Linked DNA regions of Homo sapiens: regions 1 and 3 are each linked to region 2. Evidence: fine-mapped expression QTL. A gene starts in region 2. Each other region holds a variant in brackets. All regions are shown on one strand. Distances are from middle to middle. Region 1 has its middle 52 kb from the start of SNX9. Region 2 holds the start of SNX9 (sorting nexin 9). Region 3 overlaps SNX9 (sorting nexin 9).

Region 1 (8,323 bases), 52 kb before region 2:
TGCTTCTCCTCCTTGACCTAATGAATGTGAAAGCTCTTTGTCATCTATAAATGTCAGTTCCCCAATAAAGACATACTCAGAGGATCTGCCTTCAATATGAAGCTGCCTCTGACTGTCTCATCTTTGGTACTCAGCTGGAGGTATTTCGCTTGCTGGCACTTTAACTCCCCTGCTCTGAGCGGTTGAGCTAGCACAAGGGCCATACAGAAGTAGAAACAGACTTTCTTTTCTCTGTCTTTGAATAAGAAAAGATGAAGCAAAGCCATGATGGGAATGCTGTCAACGCTGGTGACAGTGAGGCCTGGACGCCTGTCCTCAGGCCACTTCACTGCTCCGAGTTTTCTCATCTGTAGAGCCAGGATGATGGCAGCACCTACCTCATGGGGTCATTAGAAAGACTGAGGGTAGTATGTGGAAAGTGGGGCCCGACACAAATTATTTTCATGGCGACCCTCTAGCAGCCATGAAGTCTGTCCCTGCATTATCGCGAACCTTCCATGTGTTTTTCCTCAATCAGCAATTTTCCTACTAGGTCATCATTTTGGGAAAGAGATAAATCAAACCTCCTTCCCTGAACATTTATTACTTTATTTGGGTTTTTTAGGAACTGAAATTTGCATTCAATGCAAGTTAAACGGAACAATTTTGACTGTTCAAATGTACCACAATCTCAGTTCATATGAAGATCCTGTTTTCTCTTTAATCACAAATCATTTTAAAACAAAAGTTAAAGTAATTTCATTCTAGAAAATTGTTTAAAAAGTGACATGTTGAAGATGAAAGTATGGCTTGGGTTCCCAATGTCAGGCCAGAATTGATTCCCAGAACTGCCTTGGTAAATGGTAATACTGTGAGGCCCTCGGAGGGTGCAATGGGGAGGTGCAGGGCATGTGACCTCAGAGTGGAGGCTCCTGGGGGGACAGCTGGGCCATGTCTGCTGCCTCACAGGCCATCAGGGAGTAGGGGGATCTACTCTTCCTGGTTTGTCCAGGACCATCCCAGTTTTAAAACAAGAGTCTCAGGCCCAGGTACTTCCTCAGTCCCAGGTGAACTGGGACAGTTGGCCACCCCAGTCTGACCTGTCTCATGTTCCTCTGACCCTTCGGTCTCACCATCCACGCTAACCCCCGCCTAACCTACTCCATAGACTTTTCTTAAATTTTGTTTTTCCTTCCTTTACCTACATGGCAGAAGACAAATATAACAGAAGGAAAGAAAGTGACTGGGGAGAGATAATTAAGTGGGGTTGGAAATGATTGTTTCTTACAGCCATGGCCTTGGAGTTGAAGGCCCGGCCCTCACTCTCCTCCCAGGTCAGGACCTCAGCAGCAGTCAACACCACCCTGGGGCTCAGCAGCACCCTGGGTTTAGCGCGATGGCTGTTTTGTCTTCTTACTTTTACATAAATGTTTTTAGAAGCAGATGAACTGGCACCGTTGACACCATACTTCACTTCCTCTTCATACCCTTTCTTCTGTGGGGTGTAGAGCAGGTCAGGAAAGATGTTTCCCCTTTCCAGCCAGAGGAAATACATTTGCAATTCAAATGAACCCTAACAGCAAATTGCCCTTGCCTGGTACTTTTTTTAACGTAAAATTTCCTGGGGACAAGTTGTTTCTCATGACCATCAAAGTACCATACGCATATTGTTGCAAACCAGAAAAACAGAGAAGAAAATTTTGAAACGCACATATCATCTCAGAAGTCACTTTTTAAAAACACAATTGGCCGGGCGCGGTGGCTCAAGCCTGTAATCCCAGCACTTTGGGAGGCTGAAGCAGGCGGATCACCTGAGGTCAAGAGTTTGAGACCAGCCTGGCCAACATGGGGAAACCCCGTCTCTACCAAAAATACAAAAATTAGCCTGCAGTGGTGGCAGGAGCCTGTAATCCCAGCTACTCGGGAGGCTGGAGCAGGAGAATCACTTGAACCTGGGAGGCAGAGGTTGCAGTGAGCTGAGATTGTACCACTGCACTCCAGCCTGGACGACAGAGCAAGACTCCGTTCCAAAAATAAATAAATAAATAAATAAATAAATAAATAAATAAATAAATACACACTTAATAGCAACACAAGCAGTGGACACTTTGGTGAGCAGTACTTGTTCAGATGAGCCATGCTGTCTTTCAGCAGAGCCACCAGCTCCAAGGATGCTCCTCGGGCCTCCCATGCAGCAACAGCAGCAGCAACAGCAGGCACTGCATTTCCCTCATTGCTAAGTGACAGCAGTTCTCTCTGTGTGTGACACTGAATTCACCAGAGAGCCTGGCATCGATCCGACCAACAATCAACAAATTTTTGCAGAGTTCTACTCTGATGCAGGCGCAGGCACCCCCATCTTCGTGGACAGGAAATACACTGAGCTGTACCAGCAGGAAGAGCACGCTGGGGCGTGGGCAGCCAGGGGATTTCTCCTGGTCTGCGGAGGAAGGGAAAGCTCCTGGAGGACAGGGGATGTTGTGCTGAAGTCAAGACCTGAAGGCTGAGTAAGCGTCAGCCAGGGGAAGACAGAGAGGAAGGGCGATTCAGGCAGAGGGGGTCACCTGTAAGGAGGCTCAGGGGCCAGGAGCATCCCTCCCGAGGGCAGCGTGGGAGAAAGCCACAGTAGACACACCAAGGCCGGAGAAGGCCTGGCTGGAGCTGAGGATGTCAGGGAAGGAAGGAAGGGACAGAAAGGGCCAGGTCTGGAGGCCTGTGTGGAGGATTTTTGGTGGAGGCCCATGTGGAGAGGCAGTGGAAGGGGAAGCACTGGGTGTGTTGTGGGGAGGGATCTAGGCCACACACCCAGCAGTGCTTGGAAATCGATGACAAATGCAGGTGAAAATGAGGTCCCAGATAACAGGTTGAAGAAGGAGAGCACCAGGGGTCTGAAAGCAGAACAGCAGCCCCCAGGGCATGGCTGGCTTCACGGGCAGGTGAGCTGAGCCAGCGCATGGTTGGGCTCAGTGCTTGAGTAAATGTTGTCACCATCTTGAAATGCTTAGTAATATTTGAACAAGAGGTCATGCAGTCTCATTTTGCACCAGGTCTGCAAATTATGTAGCTGATCCTGCCCAGGGCTGAACGTTTTCCACAGATCTATGCAGAATTTCGCACAGCTAATGGTACGTGGACTCCATCCAAGGCCTCCAGATTTTTTGTGGATACCATCAGGCAGGACAGGAGTGTGAGGGAGGCTCACAGCGCCCAGCTCAGGGCCGATGGTGTCTGTGAGTGTGTCAGGGATGGTGTGTGGATAAAGTCCATCAGAGCAGTGCACGCATGGAAGACTTCCTGCTCGCCAGCCATGGAGACAGGAGACTGAGGGCATTTCAATAACATGAGCTTTGAGTTGGCTGCCTGAGTAAAACAGGAATTTTCCTCACCCAAGTTTCATTTACTTTAATAAGTCAAACTAAAGAAATTCCACAAGTTCAAGCCAACACCAAATGGGTAAGCTATTTGCCAGAAAATACTTTTTAAAAATGATTTATTGGCCGGGTGCGGTGGCTCACGCTTGTAATCCCAGCACTTTGGGAGGCCAAGGCGGGCAGATCACGAGGTCAGGAGATCGAGACCACCCTGGCTAACACGGTGAAACCCCGTCTCTACTAAAAAAAAATAATAATAATACAAAAAATTAGCCAGACATGGTGGCAGGCGCCTTTAAGTCCCAGCTACTTGGGAGGCTGAGGCAGGAGAATGGCATGAACCTGGGAGGCAGAGCTTGCAGTGAGCCGAGATCGCGCCACTGTACTCCAGCCTGGGTGACAGAGCGAGACTCCTTCTCAAAAAAAAAAAAAAAGATTTATTATTTTATTTGGCTAAGAATTTCATAGGATGCCTGAGTCTCATGCTAAACAAAATTTGCACTGAAAATAAAATTATTGTTGTAAAGGTTTAAAAGACAATTTGTGAATATACCTATGCTTATATTTATTTCAAGGAGAAAAAAAGAGAGAAGGCTTTACCAAAACTTAAGATGTAACACAATAAGCTCATTATTCAGGCAACTGTCTATAAATTCACCAGGATTGCTATGCAAAATATGATAGGCCTGTAGGCTCTGAACCAAATAGTTATTAGTTCACTATGAAATAAGAAAATAAATGACTAAGAATAACT[T/C]AGTCATTTATGACTAAGGTATGGATTTATGACTGAGGTATGGGTCATTTATGACTGAGGTATGGATCATCGTCATGAATTTCTTTAGGTGTTTTATATTCACTTACAGCAGACAGTGTCTATAAAATACTAAAAATTATAAGAACAGGAAACTTGGCAAGCTCTTCCAGATATTTACAAGGCTAAATCTTCTGAAGCCTAGTAATACAGTTAATAGGAAGAGCTTTAAAGCCATAGAGTTTTAGGTTCAAACATCAGCTCCCTCTTCAGCAAGTTGCTTAACCCACGGGAACCTCAGTTTCCCCACACACAAATGGATGTAATATCTACTTTACATTTATAATATATATGTCGTAATTATTCAATAACTTGTATTTTTAAAAATAGTATAGCTGCTAACAGGCAGTTAAATGTTCAGAGATGGTAGGAACTGGTTTTGATTCTCAGAAGAGAAGAGGAATCGAGGTGGAAAGGATGGTGGAGAATGAGTCAATGAGATAGTGTCGCCCAAGATGCACGCAGGAGGAGCTGCCAGGGACATATCCAGAGTGGGCTGGCTGGTAGGCAATTTTTTTTTTTTTTAAGATGGAGTCTCACTCTGTCACCCAGGCTGGAGTACAGTGGCATCATCTCGGCTCACTGCAAACTCCGCCTCCCAGGCTCAAGCCATTCTCCTGCCTCACCCACTGGAGTAGCTGGGATTACAGGCACCCACCACCATTCCCAGCTAATTTTTGTATTTTTAGTAGAGAGAGGTTTCACCACGTTGGCCAGGCTGGTCTCGAACTCCTGACCTCAAGTGATCCGCCTGCTTTGGCCTCCCAAAGTTCTGGGATTACCGGCGTGAGGCACTGCACCCGGCCCGGCAGCCAAATTTTAAGAACCAGGATGCTGGCTGAAGGATGGGTTGGGGGGACTCAAAAGGGCAAAGAGGAAGAGTAGGGGTGCTGTCATGGTCATCTAGCTTGATTAGGGCTGGAACTAAGACAGTGGAGTGGAGGACAGAGAAAACATGAAAGCTATTTTAAAAATAGGATAAACAGCCTAGATGTGGAGTGTGAAGGAGAGGACAGGGATGGGTCAAGGATTTCTGGGGTGAAGGAGGCAGTGGGACTCCCAGCAGGTAGGACTGTGTCCCCCAAAAGATATGTTCAAGTCCTAATGCCCAGTACCTGTGACCTTATTTGAAAATAGGGCCGGCCTTTGCAGATATCATCGAATTAAGATGAAGTCTTGCTGGAATAGACCCCAAGTGGGCCCTAGGTCCAATGATTGGCATCCCTAGAAGAAAAGAAAATGGGGGCCAAACACAGGGATGAAGGCCAAGTGAAAAGGGAGGCAGAGAGTGGGGTGATGCATCCGCAGGCTAAGGACCAGCACAGCCCGCTGGCAGCGCCTGAAACAGACGAGGTGAGGACGAATCCTTCCCCAGAGCCTCTGGGGAGAGCATGGCCACAACGCCGCCTTGGTTTTGGACTTCCAGCCTTCAGAACTGGGGGAGAATACATTTCTGCTGTTTTAAAGCCACCTGCTTTGTGGTAGTTTGTTATGGCAGCCCAGGAAACTAGTCCAGGGACCTTCCCTGAGATAGGAAAATACAGAAGTGTGAGGTTAAGAAAGTGTGAGGTTAAGAAAACTAGGTTAAGGCACATTGAGCCCAAGTAAGGAGCCTCAATATGGGAAATCTTTGGGTGGAAACACGTGGAGGCCACTAGAGCGTGGAGCTTAGGAAATAATCTGGGCTGGAAATGGAGATCATGGGGGAATAAGGGGTGAGCTGGAGCTGGACACGGATAAGGCCACCCAGGGAGAATGGTGGGGAGAGACGAGAAAGCAGACGACGGGAGCTTCTCCCAACGGTTCTTGGTATTACAAACTCGACATCCACATCTGAGGGAAAGTGATGATGTCGTCACTAAGGCAATTCCAGCTGAGATACTGGTGAGCATATTTATCCTCTAAACACATTCAGCCTCCATTGTTTCATGTTTACTCTCCTAAGAGAAGACACCTACAATCCTTTCTCATGTCATGCTTCCCTTAATCGTATTTTTTTTAATTAAGTAAAAGTCAAGAAGAAAACAACACAAATTGATCAGGAAAGAATATTCATTCACCTCAAATACTGACTGGGTCCCTCCTTGACTGCAGCCAGGGTGCTAGGCCCCAGCTACACTGTGGACACAGTGGACGGGTCCCAGCCCACTGCACAGAGGCAGCCGAGGTGCAGAGGTCACATGTCCAGAGGCACGTGGAAGAAGTCTGCAGTGGGGGTGGAGGTAGGTAGCAGGTGAGCCAGGCGACCTCGGCAGGAGCCAGAACAAGTAGGGCCTTGTGCACAAGTAAGAGGTTCAGCGTAAGTTTTCCTGAGGGCGATGAGAAGCCATGGAACGGTTTAAAGGGCAGCAGCAATATAAGGAGACATTTGCATGTCAGAAGACTTAACATGTGAAAAGCAAAACTGAAAGGGGCAAAATGCATTGCAAGGATGTCAGTTAGGGAGCTTTGGCTGCCGTCCAGGGAAGAGATGATCAATCCCCAAGATCAGGGAGGAGGCAACTGGGATGGGACAGTCTGAGCAGCGTCTAGATTTCCAGTACATGCACTTGATGGCAGGATAAGGTGCTGAGTTGGATTGGAGGAGGGAGGACGTTAAGAGGTGAAGGATGTCAGAGTATGGGGAGCCAAAGTGTTGTTTTTGAGCAGGAGCAGAGAGCAGGCTCCAGCGGAGGTGATGAGGTCGCCTGTGCACGTGTTAAAGGTGAGGTGCTATGGCACGATTAATTGGAGAAACTGCGAGTGAACAATTTGATATTCCTGGACACCCTCTCTGGAGTTTGGAGAACTGGAAGTCTGCACAGACCCTGAGATCCCATGAAGAAAGCGTCTGGACTGAACAGACGAGAGCCAACTTGAGATGAAGGTGCACAAGGGCAGAGGAGCCTGCCCAGGGGACCGCAAAGGGATAGGGTCAGAGAGAAAGAGGCAGACGCAGCCCAGAGGGAGAGGACCCAATGGAAAGGCCAGCCAAGCTGCACTGGGCTTGGCAGTGAGGAAGGGATTGGGAAAGAGACTTTCCAGGGGAGTGGAGGAGGTGGAGGAGTGGAGGAGGTGGGGGAGTGGAGGAGGTGGGGTAGTGGAGGAGGGATGTGGGAGGGAAGGTGAGAGTTGGGCTAGAAGTGAGAGGCTACAGCTGGAGGGGATGCCCAGGAGAGAAAGCATCTTTGTAAGTGGAACAGATGTGAGCATGAGTGGGTTCCACACTGGTGGGAGGAAGCCGTAGAGAGGAGGAGGTTGAAGATAAGGAGGGGGGCTTCCAAGGTGAAGTGGAGGGTGAGGGGCAGAGCACAGATGGGGCGATCTGCCTCAGATAGGGGGAGGAAGGCCCTGCGGTCATCGACCCACGTGTCTGCCTTAGGAATGGCCCCGTCTGCAACAGACAGGTCTCTGCACACCTGCCGGGGTCTCCTTCCTCTGGCATACTTGGGGGAAAGCTGGGAGGAGCGCCGGATCACATTTCCTCTTGCATTGGTCCATGCTGCAACCCCTCACCTCCGAAGCCTTCACATCTGCTGTGCTTTCTGCTCTCTTCGCTGCTCATCTCCCTTGAGACCCAGGACAAACCTCATCTTCTGAAATGTGCTCCACCCTCCCCGATGGCCTGGGGAGAGGGAGAGAGGGATCACACTTCTTCCCACTGTCTGTCCAAAGCAGGTGTGAGGCCTGTCTTTTAATTCCCCCTAGTCCCGTGAATGCAAGGCCAGTGGTCACAGTGCAGTGATGAGGCACAGCACCTCTGTCTCGTGCTATCCCAGTCTCAGGGAAGTCCTCAGTGGCTCTTTCCTATGGCAGTGGGTAAACAATGGGGAAGACAGTTCAGTTTCCCAGGGCCGGCTGTGTTGCTGATCAACACAAACGCCATGCAAAGACTTTAGCAGGGGCCAGGTGCAGTGGCTCACACCTGTAATCCCAGTACTTTGGGAGGCCGAGATGGGTGGATCACCTGAGGTCAAGAGTTTGAGACCAGCCTGGCCAACATATAGTGAAACCCAATCTCCACTAAAAATACAAAATTAGCTGGGCGTGGTGGCACACACCTATAGTCCCAGCCACTTGGGAAGCTGAAGCAGGAGAATTGCTTGAACCTGGGAGGTGGAGGTTACAGTGAGCCGAGATCGCACCACCACACTCCAGCCTGGGTGACAGAGGAGACTCTGTC
Region 2 (8,323 bases):
GGCTCTGTGTCTCCCAGACGATGGAGAAAGAAATGTGACTTAGTCAAAATGGAACAAAAATGAAAACCAACCAATCAGCTAACCAACTAAAACAAACATAATTTTAAAACCATACACTTTTCATACATACATTCAGCTAGTCTAATGCCAAGGGGAAACCTTATAGGAAAAAACCTCTCCTGCTTCTCTTTATTCCTATAAAGATTCTTCAGAGCACTTATAAAAGCACCTGGCACATTAGACATTTATTTGTAGTTTATTGACTTCCCCCACCCTCTACAGATTGTTAAGTTCTAAGAGAGCAGGGACTTTTGTCTCCCTCACCTGTAACAGCATCCAGTCCAAGGTGAGGACGTCATACGTTTATTAGGATTGGAATGGCACCAGCTGCACTCCTTTCCACGTTTATTTTCAAGGTCACCCCAAGGTTTTCTTTAACCTCATTAAATTCATGCCCTAAAGTGAGAGGAGGTATCCCCTTGTGCCAGACCCAGGCTGACTCTGTATTGTTACACATTATTCTCATCCTCCGATCCTTACATTAGGTGACCATCACACATTTTCACTCCGTTCCACATTAGTTCCCATAGTTGCACTTTCCCATGCTAGTTTCCCATTAGTTGACCAAGCATTTAGTTGGGCTCTGAGCTCTTAAAAACCAAAGGAGAATCTAATTTTGAATAAAAACACCTGGCCATACTGAACAAACGCAGGGAAGAGGTGGTGGTCATTATTTTCCTGTCCCCCCAGCTGTGTGGCTGGACGAAGCTTCCTGTGAATCCTAATCACTTTACCTCCTGTGGCATGATTCAAAAAAAAAAAAAAAAAAAGCAGCTAGAGTACAAAGCCTAAACAGAGTGGCTCTGTTGCTCTGCCTCCAGGTCTTTTTCTTTTGAAAGTGCAATCTAGTAATAACCAAACGCAGTCTGCAAATGCAAATCCAATTGCTTAACTAATTGTGTTCTCACCCCTGGAGTAATGGAAGTTCATGCTGTAGAAGAAAATCTGAACTTAGCATGGCCCAGGGTTCTGGGTTCTGGGTTCTAAAGGCAGGCCTGCGTAGAGAATCAACTCTAAGGAAGCTCGCTCAAAGGACGGAGGTGGACAGAAGAGAGATATGCATGGTTGATCAAGTGGGAGCAGAAGACAAACGCCACCACCGGGTGCAGTGGCTCACGACTGTAATCCCAGCACTTTGGGAGGCTGAGGCAGACGGATCACTTAGGATAAGGAGTTTGAGACCAGCCTGGCCAACGTGGCAAAACCCTGTCTCTACTAAAAATAAAAAATAAAAAATAAAAAAAAACTTAGCCAGGCATGGTGGCAGGTGCCCGTAATCCCAGCTACTGCGGAGGCTGAGGCAGGAGAATCACTTGAACCTGGGAGGCGGAGGCTGCAGTGAGCCGAGATTGGGCCACTGCACTCCAGCCTGGGTGACAGAACAAGACCCAGTCTCTCTCTCTATATACAAATATATTCTATGAAAGTGGGTCTCCTCTATAACATTCATGAAGTAATGTTGATTTTGACTGACGTATATAAAAATAAAACTCCTAAGTTTAGCAGTATTTACTGGAGATATACTACCCAATTCATTACTAAAAATGTGAAAAAGATTTTAGTTATGTTCAAGATCCCTTCGGTGTGGCTTATTGTGAAAGTGCACATGTTTATCTCTTTTTTTTTTTTTTTTTTTTTGAGTCGGAGTCTTGCCCAGGCTGGAGTGCAGTGGCTCGATCTCGGCCCACTGCAACCTCCGCCTTCCGGGTTCAAGTGATTCTCCTGCCTCAGCCTCCTGAGTAGCTGGGACTACAGGCGCGTGCCACCATGCCCAGCTAATTTTTGTATTTTTAGTAGAGACGGGGTTTCACCATGTTGGCCAGGATGGTTTCGATCTCTTCACCTCGTGACCCGCCCGCCGCAGCCTCCCAAAGTGCTGGGATTACAGGCGTGAGCCACAGCGCCCGGCCATGTTTATCTCTGTTTATGTACTTTTTCATTTGTTTTTCACAGTCTTGCTCTTTTTAAAACAACAACAACAACAAAAAACTTCTAGAAATGAGGTCTCACTATGTTGCCCAGGCTGGTGTTGAACACCTGGGCTTAAGCAATCCTTCCACCTTAGCCCTCCACCATTACTTCTAAAAAATAAAACCAGGGTTATGAAATTGTTCTGGTGGGAAAAGCTTGAAGTCTCTAGTCTTCTTGCTTTCATGGTGCTGGGTGCCCAGGATGACTATTTGCATAGGATTTGCCAGATGAGCATGTGGAAAGGCCTGTCTTCACAGGTGTGCCCCTAACTTTGCACCTTCCTATCAAGGGATGCATTGTTGAACGGCTGCAGAGAGAGCTGTACCCAGCCTTCACATTTAAAAGAATATGGAAAACTCATTACTTATGACATTGCCTGAGTTCAAATCCTGGCTTTTCCACATACTAGTGTGTGCTCTTAGCCAAGTTATTTCTTCCATTGTTTATTAAAATATAACTGCTGTTTTTAAATGAAGTCATATATACACATGGTCAAAAACTCTGACAACAGGATCTGGCGAATCTTTCTCAGAAATTTTCTAGGAATGTGTCACATATTTCCTTTTTTTTTTTTTTTTTACATAAATGTACCATACATAATGTTCTTTTTATCTTTCTTAACACCTCTTAGAATATTATCATTTTCTTACGGGCTTCCTAGTATTTTTGTTTGAATGGATGTATCTTATTTACTGAAACAGTCCTGTTAACAAACACATAGGTTGCTTTCTGGTTGGAGTTATTACAGAACAATCTTTGATGAACATCTTTGAACACTTGTACAAGTGTTTGACAGGATAAATTCCCAGGAGGGCTGCTGGGTCCAAGGCTACGGTCATTTTCGATTTGAATAAGTATTACCAAATGGGCAAGTTATTTAAGTGATCCCTGAGTCGCTCTTCTTTGTAAACAGTGGACAATAATGAGTTTCTCAAATGTTTCTTATAAGGATTAAATGAGATGGGGATGTGGAAGCCTAGTATACAGCAAGCAGGCCGTCAATGAATGTTGGCCTCCCAATATTTTTTTTTACGGAGAAAGACAACTATTTATGCATATTATGATGACTATAGCTTAACCATGAGCTCAACAAACACAAAAATTCACAGAAAATTCTGCAATACCGTATCTATTTTAAACCCCATTATTGAATATAACTAGTGAAATCTCAGGTCAAATAGAATGTATTTAAGAAGACACAAACTTGACATTAAACACCAGAGATTTACATTTGATAGTTGTCTCTTCTTACAAATATATCCCTCATAATAATAAAAAAGCACTCCACTAGTATGCCAATTAAGACACATCTTCCAGTCGTGTTTTGTCCTTGAGTGAAAAATCTTGCTGCTCAATTCAAGTCATTCGTTTATTCATAACACCCATATATATATCTCCAACTCTGGAAAGAAACACTGACAGAAAGATGGAAAATTTTAGAGACCTCGTTTCCACTTCAGAGAGCCTGTTGTCCCCCAAACCTCTCGGGCCCTCCGGTATTTTTAAGCTTATCAAGATTCCAGAATGAGGTTAACGGGGCGTCACAGAACGAAACCCCCCACCGTCCCGTCCCAGGGGCTTCAAGCCAGGACCCCGGCCTGAGGGAGCCTCCGGGCAGGAGGAAGAGGCCCAGGAAGCCATCGCTCCGCTCCTTCCCAGCTGTTTATGTGGTACTCAGGGTACTCGGCCAAGGGCACGGCGACCCCGCAACACCCCAGGCGTGGGGCAAAGACAGCGGGGTTGCGGGGCTCCTGTCTGCCCGGGGCGTCGAGAGTTCCTGCCGCCCCCTCCCGCCTCATGCACGGAAAGCGCCGAGCCACGGCGTGCGGCGCCGGCCGAGCGTGAACCGGAGTCGGGGTTCGGCTACCCCGAGCGGCTCTGTGGGCCGCGGATCGCTTCCCCTGGGGCGGCCACGCAGGGTTGCGGGCCATGGCCTGGGGCGCCCGTCCGGACCCCGCCGCTGCGCGGGACGCCGCTCCCAGCCTCGACCAAGGGCGCCCGGGGGCGGCGGCGGCGGCGGCGGCGGTGACTGCCCGGGGCGGCGGCGCGGCGCGGGGGCGGCCAGGAGGCGAGGAGGCCGGGCCGCGGCCGAGGGCCCAGGGCGCGCTTCCGGCGGGCGTCGCGCGCGCCGCGGTAAATGGGAGGCTCGGCCGACAGGGGCGGGGGCCGCGCAGCCGGGGACTTTCAGGAACTGCAGGAGCGTGCGGCGCGGGAGTAGCCGAGCGCCCAGCGGCTGGGCCTGAGCGTCGAGACTCGGGGCCGAGGCGGAGGAGCGGCCGCCGCGCCGGGGCCCAGCCGGAGCCGCCGCCCTCGCCCTTGCCTTTGCCTGCGCGGCTCAGAATCACCATCCGCGGCGCGGGAGACGAGCCGGCCGTCCCGGGCCGGGGGACCCGCCCGCCATGGCCACCAAGGTGAGGGGCGCGCGGCGCAGGCCGGGCCGGTCGCTCAGGCCCGGGGCGGCGCGGAGAGGGTCGGGGCCGGGGCCGCGGGGAGGGTCGGGGCCAGGGGTGGTCGAGGGGCCACTCCGCTTCCTCGGTGGAGTCCCCGGGCGGGTCCGCGGCCCAGCCAGTCCCTTCTGGGCATGGGTGCGGCGGGCAGTGCAGACAGACCACCAGGATCGCACCGGGGGACGGCGTCGGGTCTGGGCGCGGGTTGGGACCCCGGGCGCAGCGAGGTTTGGGAAGTTTGCACCTGAGCGTGGGCTGCGGCGGGCTCGCCGGGAGGGGCCGCGGGACGGAAACTTCCCGCAGCCCGGGGAGGCCCCCGAGGCGACTGGCGCTCTGTGGCGTCCGGCGTCCCCGCCGCCCCCACGTCCCCTCCCGCTGCCGCCTGGGGGACCCTCGCCCCCGCGGGGCGGGTGGGGGTCGAGACCTCGGCGGAGAGGACGCGGCGCTTCCCGTCCCGGCCTGCGGGGGCTCGCGGCCGGGGAGGGACCGAGGCTGGGACGCCCCGCGCCCCTTTGCCTTCGCTGCTGTTATTTTTTTCTTTTGTTTTGCTACCTTTTCATTGTGAATGGCATTGCCGGCATGAATAAAATATCAAGAGGGAAATGACTGTGCTTTCGATTACGTGTTTGCCTGAAAAAAGGCCCAGGCCCGAATTACGTGGTGGAACTTTGACTCCTGCTTCGTCATTGGCTAGGAGCGGTGGTTTGCTTGTTTTACGTTATTGTTTATGAAATTAGCAGTCACTCTTGGCTACCTGAATTTTCAAAAGCCACCCTCCCCCGCTCCTTTTCCTTGGGCGTTTTCAGTAGTTACTTGATGTAGAATAGCCACTGGGGAAGTCACGGTCACGGAAGGGAGGACCTGGGGGAGGAGGCTCTATACCTGAGCCATTAACTGATCTGTGATACACTGTGAGGAGTGGGTTTACTTTTGCACTTAGTTTTTGTAATGTCACTTTGTTAGCATCAGCACCCCTTTGTCTATTTGTTTTTGAGATCTCTGAGCTACTTTTGGGTTGCTAGAAACGTTATTTTTTATTTTTCGATAGGTGTTTGCTTTTTTTGTGGAGTGTTAAGGTAGAAAATGGTAAGAAATGTGAAATCTCTTTGAAAGATCAGCATTGCTTGACTTCGGTCTGCTAGATGTTGTGCTGTGGTAAATTTTGTGCTCTGAATCCATCTAGGTGCAGCGTTTGTAGAGAAATGGGGATTCTCCTCCAGGGAACCTGTTGCTGCTGTTACTGAAATAATTACCTTCTTGTTAATATATTATTGCCTGTGCTGTGCTTTGGTTTTATTAATGCGATAGAACTTGCCACCTTTTTAACGTATTAATTTTGTGTTGACCTTTTTAAAAATAAAACTTAGGCCAAGGATTTCTAAGGAAATTTGATTTTGAGGTTTGTTGCCAGACATTCCAGAAATTACCAGTTACACATCCTAGTACATGCTCATCTTGCAACCTTAAAAGCGGTTTATAGGCCGGGCGCGGTGGCTCACTCCCACCTGTAATTCCAGCACTTTGGGAGGCCGCGGTGGGTGGTTCACCTGAGGTCGGGAGCTCGAGACAAGCCTGGCCAATATGGTGAAACCCTGTCTCTACTAAAAATACAGAAATTAGCTGGGCGTGGTGGCGCGCGCCTGTAGCCCCAGCTGCTCTGGAGGCTGAGGCAGGAGAATCGCTTGAACCCGGGAGGCGGAGGTTGCAGTGATCCGAGATCGCGCCACTGCACTCCAGCCTGGGCGACAGAGCGAGACTCCGTTTGAAAAAAGAAAAGACGAGACTCCGTTTGAAAAAAGAGAAGACGGTTTATGACATAGAGATCTGTCTAGTGGTGGTCAGTGTGTTTTTACACTCTGGTCTACTGAGGCATGTTATCTGTACTGTCCTTTAAGTGGAATGCAGTTTAGCAACTAGTGCAGGTATATATAGTGAAATTTTTATTTCATAGTTAATCCTGAACTTAATTTTTTTCCAAAAAATCGAAAAGTGGTTCTTGTATATTAATCTCGAATTGCATGTGTCTTTGATTAAACACGAGCCTTAAAGCATGCGTAAGGACTTCCTACTTCGTTATCTACACCACTCCAAAGGCAAATTCCAGTAGTTCTGTTAGTTTCTTTCGGCTGCCTAATCACTGTTCCACATGGTGCTCATTTCCATGTTTACATTGTGACAAACCATTTCCATTTTAAGAAAAAGAAGAGCAACGAAGCAGTTATTAAAAGAAGACCCTTCCTTTGTTTTCTGACATGCTGGTGATTCTTGTGTCAAACCAAAGTCTCATTTTTTAATTGTTCCCAGAGAGTCAAGTTGGTGCTTTCCTCCCTTCCCCCATATGCACACTCCTTCCCCACACCTGAGTAGTTGTGTTTTTTCTTTGTCTTCTTCAAGGGGTGGGGAGAATGTGCTTAGTAGTAATGACTAACTTTTAATAAAAATGTAGGCTCCAGTGGCACTCAGGCTGTTGCTATAAGTATTAACTGATGAAAAGTAAATTCAGTATCTGGATATTTTAAGGGATGTCGATTTCCCTTTGAATTTATCAGAGACTTGGCTATAGTATCTTCAGATACAATTTTCTTGTTTGTTCTTACGTATTAAGGATGTGGTTATCACTGAACTATTGGGATTTTTAAAAACTCCACTACTATATTTTACAATAAAAAAGGAAATTATCTTTTAGAAGAAGAACTTTAGTTTGACAGTCCTTCACTGCTAAAGAAAGTTAATCAGGGTCGGGCGCCGTCTCACGCCTGTAATCCTAGCACTTTGGGAGGCCGAGGCGGGCGGATCACGAGGTCGGGAGATCGAGACCATCCTGGCTAACACGGTGAAACTCCATCTATACTAAAAATACAAAAAAAATTAGCTGGGCGTGGTGGCGGGCGCCTGTAGTCCCAGCTACTCGGGAGGCTGAGGCAGGAGAATAGCGTGAACCCGGGAGGCAGAACTTGCAGTGAGCCGATTTTGCGCCACTGCACTCCAGCCTGGGTGACAGAGTGAGACTCCATCTCAAGAAAAAAAAAAAAAAAAGGAAAGTTAATCAGTAACTGCACATTTTAAGGGGATTATCTATTTTCTATTTCTACTCCTTACTCAGTAGAGTGCTGCATTCAGTTTAAGTGTATACACTCACTCAGTGCAATCAAGTCTTGTTTTACAAATATTAATACAAAAGCTGCAGAGCATTTTAGTCTTGACCTTTATTGGAAGCCTCCAAAGGTTATATTTCGACCCAGCCAAAATATAACCTATTTATATTATAGGTTTTATATATATATGATATATAAATATATTATATTATATATATATATTATATTTTATATATAAATATATATTATATTTTATATATATATTATATTTTATATATAAATATATATTATAGTTTATATAATATATAAATATATATTATAGTTTATATAATATATAAAATATATTATAGTTTATATAATATATAAAATATATTATAGTTTATATAATATATACATATATATTATAGTTTATATAATATATACATATATATTATAGTTTATATAATATATACATATATATTATAGTTTATATAATATATAAACATATATTATAGTTTATATAATATATAAACATATATTATAGTTTATATAATATATACATATATATTATAGTTTATATAATATATACATATATATTATAGTTTATATAATATATAAACATATATTATAGTTTATATAATATATAAACATATATTATAGTTTATATAATATATAAACATATATTATAGTTTATATAATATATAAACATATATTATAGTTTATATAATATATAAACATATATTATAGTTTATATAATATATAAACATATAT
Region 3 (8,323 bases), 52 kb after region 2:
AGTGTCTCAAAAAAAAGAAAATCACTGGGTAGAAAAAGATTATGTAGTAATTTTGTATAATATGCTAGGTGTGCATGTTCTCATTCATAGGTGGGAATTGAACAATGAGAACACTTGGACACAGGGCGGGGAACGTCGCACACCAGGGCCTGTCGTCGGGTGGGAGGAGGGGGGAGGGATAGCATTAGGAGAAATACCTAATGTAAATGACAAGTTAATGGGTGCAGCACACCAACATGGCACATGTATACCTATGTAACAAACCTGCACGTTGTGCACATGTACCCTAGAACTTAAAGTATAATAATAATTTTTAAAAATTTTTAAAAATGCTAGATGTGTATAAGTTAAATAGATTCAGTTTTAATCATAGCAGAGATTAAAGATTCTTCAGTCTTACCTTTTTTTTTTTTTTTTTTTTGCAGACAGGCTCTCACCCTGTCACCCAGGCTGGAGTGAGGTGGTGTGATCTTGGCTCACTGTAACCTCTGCCTTCTGGGTTTAAGCAATTCTCATGCCCCAGCCTCCCGAGTAGCTGGGATTACAGGTGTGAGCCACTGTACCCAGCCTCATCTAATTTCTTTATTGAAGTATTTAATTTTTCTTGGTAAAATAGCAACTTGTCCTCAAGTTGCTATTGTGGTCAGAAAGTGACAAAAGTTGTGGCTTAAAGTGATTTTTTAAGAGAATGTGATTATTCAGATTCAGATTATTAACTAATTAGGGCATTATTTTAAAACTGTAAAAACTCTTACTATGTTAAGATGAGAAAGTGGGACCTGCCCCTTAACATTGTTAATAATTAATAATAATATCAACATTAATAGTTTAATATTTAGATAAAGTTTCTTCCAAGGATAGCAACTTCTATTCTGAATAAAAGTTACAATTTTTCCTTTGATCATAGATTGAAATGGCAATACTGGGATATAGAGTTCTACTTTATTACTTAGTTTATTAATATTATTTATCCAGAAGAACTGAGGAACCATGGATCAGTTCACTTTTTCTGCATAACAATCCTAAAACTTACTAGTTTAACCCAGTAACCATTTGTTACTGCTTAGGAATCTACAAGTCAGCTTGATGGTTCTCCTGAGCTGCACTGCGTGTGTCTGCAATCACTGGACCCTGCTGGGGACTGACTGGTCTAAGGTAGCCTCACTCATGAGTCTGCCAGTTCTCTGGGTTGGCTGGCTTTGAATGGGGCAACAGGGAGACTGGGTCTCTGTCATCATCTAGCAACCCACATTAATTCGTATAGCGACTTGGGTGCCAGAAGAGTCAGCTGAAGTGTGCAGAAGCCCTTGAGGCAAGGTTCTGGATTCCCTGGAGGATTTCCACTTGATTCTGTTGACCAGCGAGGTGGCAGAGGGCAGATTCCAGGCCTGGGATGCGCATCCCACCGCTTCACATTCAGAGCTGCAAGCCACTTTTATTATCTGCCGCAGACCAGTACACAGACAAGATGAGGGTCATCTAATCATCAGCTGTTTTCAATCTTTGATCACTTATTATTGAAGTTTGATTTTTCTTGTTTTTAGGTTACATCATTTTCTGAAGTAAAGAGAAGGCTTAAGAATTTAAGATTTTGAACGGTGTTCTCTAGGAATGAAAAGCTTAATGTTAATTGCTTTTTTTATGTATAACAATTCCTCCACACAAAATTTCTCCAGGAAATCTCAACTGTAATCTTTTTCTTTTTTTTTTTTTTTTGGTGACTTATTAGGATGTAGGTGGAGGATGGCTGGAAGGAAGAAACATCAAAGGAGAACGAGGGCTGGTTCCCACAGACTACGTTGAAGTAAGAGCTTCCTGTCATTCATTCATTAGAGCTCATCTTTGCCAGGCATCTTTTTATGAATTATCAACTTACAAGAAGTCAGCAACTTTTTGCAAAACAAAATTTCCATTGTAAATATAATAAATGTTAACTATATAAAATATGGAAACTACATTGAAATAGAACTAAGAAAAATATTACCTGTAGACCCAAGCTTCAAAGAATGACTACAGATATTTAGGTTAAGTTTCTTCCAGGGATAGCAACTTTTAATTGGTCTGAATAAAAGTTAGTATTTTTCCTTTGCTAATATTATCTATATTATAAATATATATTATAAATTGTATAAATTCAATAAGATATATGAAATTATATCTCAATATATCTGTTAATATATACATTTTAAATATATATTTATATTTTTATAAGCAAAATATATAAATTTTATAAAATGTATTATAAATTATATAAATTATAAATATAGATATATATTTATAATATGACACATATAACGTATTTTTCCTTTGCTGATATTGCTGCCATCTATAATATTGTTTATTGTACAATAGACTCACAGTTTAAATAGATTTTTTTAAGTGCATATCTCAGTTCCTTCTCCCATTCCCATAGACAGAGGGGTGTCTTGGGGGAGCTGCTGTGGGGATCTCCTGGGTAGAGCTGTTAGGATGGATACCCAGGAGAGCAACACAGCAGCCTGGGCTGGTCCTGCCTGGGACACCCCCAAGCTGAGCCAACCACCTGGCGCCCCCTGCTGGTTGTCTTTCGGTCCCTCCAAACCGAGCGAAGGTTCTTGGTAAGCTTGTCTTTCATGTTGGGTGACAGAAAGAAGCGAAGGTTTCCTGATGCCCTGTGAGTACAACTGGAGCTAGATCAAGAATAAAGGTACCTTTGGTTCACCTCCAGGAGAAAAGAATTCCCCCCAGAGGATGTTTACCTGGGACCTGTCTGCAGAGTGAGATCTAAGGCCGTCCTTCTGTTGTTGATAGACAGTGAGGGTGGGGAGTCATGACCCCTCAGAGAATCCGATGCAATCTCTAGGCTTTCCCTCAGAAACGTGTGCCCATGCACACACCACAGCCTTTTCCATACAACTGCAACCCCCTATTCACAGGCCCCTGGCCTCACTCCGTAGGTCTTATGTTGAAGTCTTGTTTTACTTGTATGCACTTTGCATCCAGGAGCCCACAAATTGACAAGATTGAGAAAAATCTGAGAATTTAAGTTGATATTGGCAGTAATTGGATTTTCTAGGATTCTGCTTATATAAAGGAATAGTGATTACAGATATTCTTGGGTTTGCTTACCTTTAAGAATATAAAACCCCCTCTATTAGAAATAGATCCTGCAGGCAGAAAATCAGTAAGGACGTGGTTGAACTCAGCACCATCAATAAATTGATGTCCACTTAGGGACATCTATAGACTGCTTCATCAAACCACAGCAGCATACACATTCTTTTCAAGCTTACATGGAACATTCTCTAAGACAGACCACATATTCTGAGCCATAAAACATACCTCAACATGTTTGAAAGAAATCATACAGTGTCTGCCCTGAGACCACAATGGAATCACACTAGAAATCAAAACAGAAAGATAGATGGAAAATCTGTAAATACTTAGAGATTGAACAATCCACTTCTAAATAATGCATGGATCAAAGAAGAAATCTCGAGAAATTAAAAAATAGTTTGAACTAAATAAAAATGAAAATACAACCCATTAAAATATGAGTATGCGGCAAAAGCAGTGCTTACAGAGAAATTTGTAGCATTGAAGAATATAAACCCTTTTTGACAATTCTTGCTTGCCCTCGAAGACTCCCTGAAGTGACCGTAATCTATGAAAATAATTGCGGCTCTTTCTCCTATTCAGATTTTACCCAGTGATGGAAAAGATCAATTTTCTTGTGGAAATTCAGTGGCTGACCAAGCCTTCCTTGATTCTCTCTCAGCCAGCACAGCTCAGGCCAGTTCGTCGGCTGCCAGCAACAATCACCAGGTACGTCTCACTTCCTCCTTCTGGATGTGGCTGGCTTTACGGAAAACAGAGCGTATTTGTGAAGGCTTGTGATGCATTATAGCTATTGCCATTCCCCAAAAGCAAAAACAAAGT[C/T]GCTTTTAGGTTGTTCTGTGGCATTTCTGTTGGGTACTAACAAAGAAATCACCTGTTAAGCCTGATAATGACTGTTTGCAAAATTTATTATAAGAGAAAAGGCAGGGTATTGAGGGTTGCTTTTAGAAGTCTGTCATGATATGAACACAGACCCCAGAAACTGCAAATACCCTCTTAGATAAAGGCATGGAAAGAAGAGGAAGAAGAGGAGGCTCTTGTTGTTGAGGAGGTCAGTGTCAGAGCCTCGGCCTGGATCAGGAAATAGATGCCCTGGCCCTGGCATGTTGCTTACACTCTCAGAGCTAGAGGCCCTCATCCTGCGAGTAGAAGCAGTGCCTGTGAAAGTCTACCAGATCCAGGCACTCAGCACTTGGTACTCTTATTGTATTGCTTCCAGGAAACTTAGAATAGTGGGATAACTTGAGAAGAATACAAGGAAATTTTACATTAATTTTAATTAAAATTTGACTAGTTTAGGTGAATTTGTCTAGTTCATTTATTGCCAAATGATGACACAGAGTAAGTGACAAGAAGAAAATTGAGAAGACAGGTATCAAAATATTGTTGCTGCTGGGCACAGTAGCTCACGCCTGTAATCCCAGCACTTTGGGAGGCCAAGGCAGGTGGATTGCTTGAGTGCTGGAGTTCGAGACAAGCCTGGGCAACACGATGAAACCCCATCTCCACACGTTAAAAAAAAAGTTAAAAAAAAAGAATTAAAATATTGTTAACTGCTTACATCTTTAGAAATGAATGGGCTTTAGGAGATGTTATTTCTTGATTTTTTTTTTAACTACATAAAAGGTTTTAAATTCTATCAGGCCTGATGATAATCATATCACTTACAAGTATTTGCTTATAAAATATCTGTTTATTAGCCAGGCACAGTGGCTCACGCCTGTAATCCCACCAGCACTTTGGGAGGCCGAGGCGGGCGGATCACCTGAGTTCAGGAGTTTGAGACCATCCTGGCCAACATGGTGAAACCCCATCTCTACTAAAAATACAAAAATTAGCTAGGTGTGGTGGCAGGCACCTGTAATCCAAGCTGCTCGGGGGGCTGAAGCAGGAGAATGACTTGAACTGGGAGGCGGCCACTGCAGTAAGCCGAGATCGTGCCACTGTACTCCAGCCTGGGCGAGTGAGACTCCTCAAAAGAAAAAGAATATCTGTCAATTGACCTTCCAAGTGAGTTTATATAAGTTTATCACCATATACTAACTGCAGGTTTTATACATTTCAAAACAGCTTTTTGTAGACATTCTGAATTACAAATTAGACTCAGATATTTAAAATTTGCAGGCAAGGTGATTGATCACTGTAATTGAAGAATTCTCTTCTGTATTTTATTATTCTATACTACTTGAGAACATTGGCCAGGTAAGGGTTACTCACTGTGAAACGTGAATAGTAGTTATACCTCACTGGAAGTTTTCCCAGGGGTTCTCAACCTGAGCCTCATTGCCGTTTGAGGCCCCGCGCCCTTTCCTAGTGGGGCGGGCCCATCCTGGGCACTGCAGGATATTGAGCAGCCTTCCTAGCTTCTACCTACCAGGTGCCAGTCACATGCACGCCACCTCAGTTGTGACAACCAAAAATGTCTCCAGATATAGCCAAGTGTTGCCTAGGAGCAAAGCCAAGCCAGTTGAGATTCACTGAGTTATACAGAAGCACCCATGAAATGGGTTTGCATTAATAAAGGACAAGATTTTAATAAAAGAATTGTAATGAGGTAATGAGATCATAGAATAAGTGAGGCAAACAAAAAATAGAAATATTTATCTTATTTTAATTCTAGGGACTGACCAGCTATTATCTCAAGATAGGTGGAGGCAGTTTAGCTAATGAAAAGAAATTAAAACTCAGATTTAAGTCATGTTCTGTTAGGAAATATATTCCTTGGTATTTACTTGTAGTTTAATATAAACTGGTATAAGTCTAAAATTTGTTTCGTTTAGGTTATTTAGAAGGTAATAAAAGAAAAAAAAAGCGGGGGGGGCATCTAGTCTAACATTGAATCTAATCAGATCCTTTGAAAGCAAAGAAAAATGAACTGAAACTAGAATTAACAAAATGCAGAAAGCATAGCCGTCATTAATTTGAGCATTTGAATTTAATGTAAATCAAGTAAAAATATTTTAACTGCTATCTCTGCCCTCTGTTATCTGGGATATGAGAACAATTTAAGTAGGCCAAAATTTGGGTACATTTTGTAAATACCATGAAAGATGTCACGAGTAGGAAACCAGATGACCATTAATTGGTAGCTTTTTAAACATTTTCCTATCAGGTTTGCCCATTGCTTTCATTTTCTGAATGCGGGTAGGAAGATGTGTGCTCTGAGGTGAGCTGCTTGGGAGGCTCTGATTGCCTGTGCTCTCTCCCAGGGTCGGTTTTGTTTTGAGAGCGGGAACCTCAGAGAAGCTGGGCCTCTCTCCTGTCCATCAGGCCCATGGGCACATCCCCTCTCAGGCATGCATCTCTTCAGCTTGGCACACTCTGCCAACTTCTGAGCCAGTGTCTCTTTACTCATCTTAGCATCAGTAAGTTTAAATTTGACTCTCCTCCCACACAAGCAAGTTGAAGCCCCACATTCAGTTGGTTATCCAACTTCCTGAGTGTCGTATTTTTCTTTAAGTATATCTTTTTAAAGATCTCTTTGAATAACTTATTTCGAGCCTGCTACTCTTTCCTTGACTTTGTATTCTTAATCTGTGCTGCATTTCAGAGTAACTAGTTCATAAATGTATAACCTACTATGTAAGATAGCACTTTCTTTTGGTTTTTCTTAAAACTCCTAATTTCAGGTTGCTTGGGGGACCCTTTGGTTCTAGATTCTTACTGAGTAGTCTCAGGTGAGCAGAGTTGCTGGTGTCAAGGCAGTGTTGCTGCATCCAGGTCCCTGGCCCACTGTGATTGCTTTCCTCTTTTGGTGGTGAGAAAACGCTTTATCAGCCAAAACGCAGTTCAGCTTGGCTGCAGTTTAGACTAGAATTGTCAGTGTGAAAGGAATATGATGAGTTGTTCTTTAAATGGACTGAAACAGTTTGATTTGGAAAATTATAAAGCTGTTTATTAAACTACTTGGAGAAAATAATAGACAGCATTTTTTTTATGATCTTGGAATATGGAAGCCCACCATTTTTTTTTTTTTTTTGAGACGGAGTCTCGCTCAGTCGCTCAGGCTGGAGTGCAGTGGCGTGATGTCAGCTCACTGCAACCTCTGCCTCCTCCTGGGTTCAAATGATTCTCCTGCGTCAATCTCCTGAGTAGCTGGGACTACAGGTGCCCGCCACTACGCCCAGGTAATTTTTGTATTTTTGGTAGAGATGGGGTTTCACCATATTGGCCAGGCTGGTCTCAAACTCCTGACCTTGTGATCCGCCCACTTCAGCCTCCCAATTGCATCCGGCCTATGGAAGCCCTTTCTGAGACTGACAGCACAAAGTCTAGTGGCCATTAAGGATATAATTGATACATTTAAGTAAACAAGTAATATTAAATTAGCAAAAATACTTCTGACTTATGACGGATACAGGCTAATTCCATTCATATACATACACTCTTGCTAATCTGTAAGAAAAAGATGAAGAATTCAGAAAAATAGGTAAAGTGTATAAACAGGCTGTCCTTTGGTGGGGGAAGGTACTAATAGTTAATATACTTGGGAAAATGCTCATTTTAAGATTCTTCTATCAAACTAGCAGAGAATGAAAACAGTTTAAAAGCTAGTGTCATACAGGTGTGGTCAGACAGGCAATGTCATACAAAGCGAGGGAAAGGATAAAGTGATGAAGCTTTTCGGGGCTGGTTCGGTAATGTATATGAGTATTTACAATGCATATCTCTAAGGCCCAGCGGTTCTGAGTTCCTCCTGCAGATCTGCTCGCAGAACGCAGGTTTCTGGGCAAGAACGTTTCCTACGGCATTGTTTGTAACAGCAGAAAACCGGAATGTAAATGTCTGTCAGCAGGGGACTGATCAGATGAACTATAGGCAGCCACGCAGTGGAAAGCTGAGCTTCCCTTAGGGAGAGTGAGGGTAGATTTAGATGTACAGATAGAGGTATGATTTTTTTAAAAGGCACCTCAGTATGGGTAATGTTATCTTTCTTGTGTTTCAGTGCACACACATACACACACACCATAGATGCAAAGTGTGTAGAAAATGTATTGAAGGATACCCAGGAACTGAATCAAACTCTCTTCATTTTCTTATTCAAATACAGATTTTATATTACCCAGATAAGGACAACCATTTTATTACCTTTGAAAAGAAAGCATAGTTTTTAGTGGTTAATATTAGTTTCATTATTAGTTACTTATCGGTTATTTCACAGTTTCAAGAGTATTTCACGTTAGTGGCTGAACCACTAGAATGAATGGACCAGCTGATGGGAATGAAT

What was found. PIP is the estimated chance that this variant, and not a neighbour inherited with it, causes the effect. A credible set is the group of variants that fine-mapping cannot tell apart.
Region 1: its variant is the best candidate, but not a certain one, in a credible set for the expression of SNX9 in fibroblasts (GTEx, PIP 0.82).
Region 3: its variant is the best candidate, but not a certain one, in a credible set for the expression of SNX9 in whole blood (INTERVAL, PIP 0.55).

The regions. Positions count from the first base shown.
Region 1 is chr6:157,767,032-157,775,354 of GRCh38, forward strand. No RefSeq gene overlaps it. Among named protein-coding and RNA genes, the nearest start is that of SNX9, 52 kb to the right of the region's middle. The variant T/C (reference allele first, on the strand shown) is at 4,105.
Region 2 is chr6:157,819,005-157,827,327 of GRCh38, forward strand. It overlaps SNX9 (sorting nexin 9), which reads left to right and starts at 4,242. Exons shown (of 18, transcript NM_016224.5): 1 at 4,242-4,442. The coding sequence starts at 4,431. RefSeq lists a silencer at 4,051-4,370 and an enhancer at 5,021-5,070.
Region 3 is chr6:157,871,373-157,879,695 of GRCh38, forward strand. It overlaps SNX9 (sorting nexin 9), which reads left to right. Exons shown (of 18, transcript NM_016224.5): 3 at 1,730-1,804; 4 at 3,679-3,804. Among named protein-coding and RNA genes, the nearest start is that of SNX9-AS1, 17 kb to the right of the region's middle. RefSeq lists a silencer at 2,439-2,508. The variant C/T (reference allele first, on the strand shown) is at 3,919.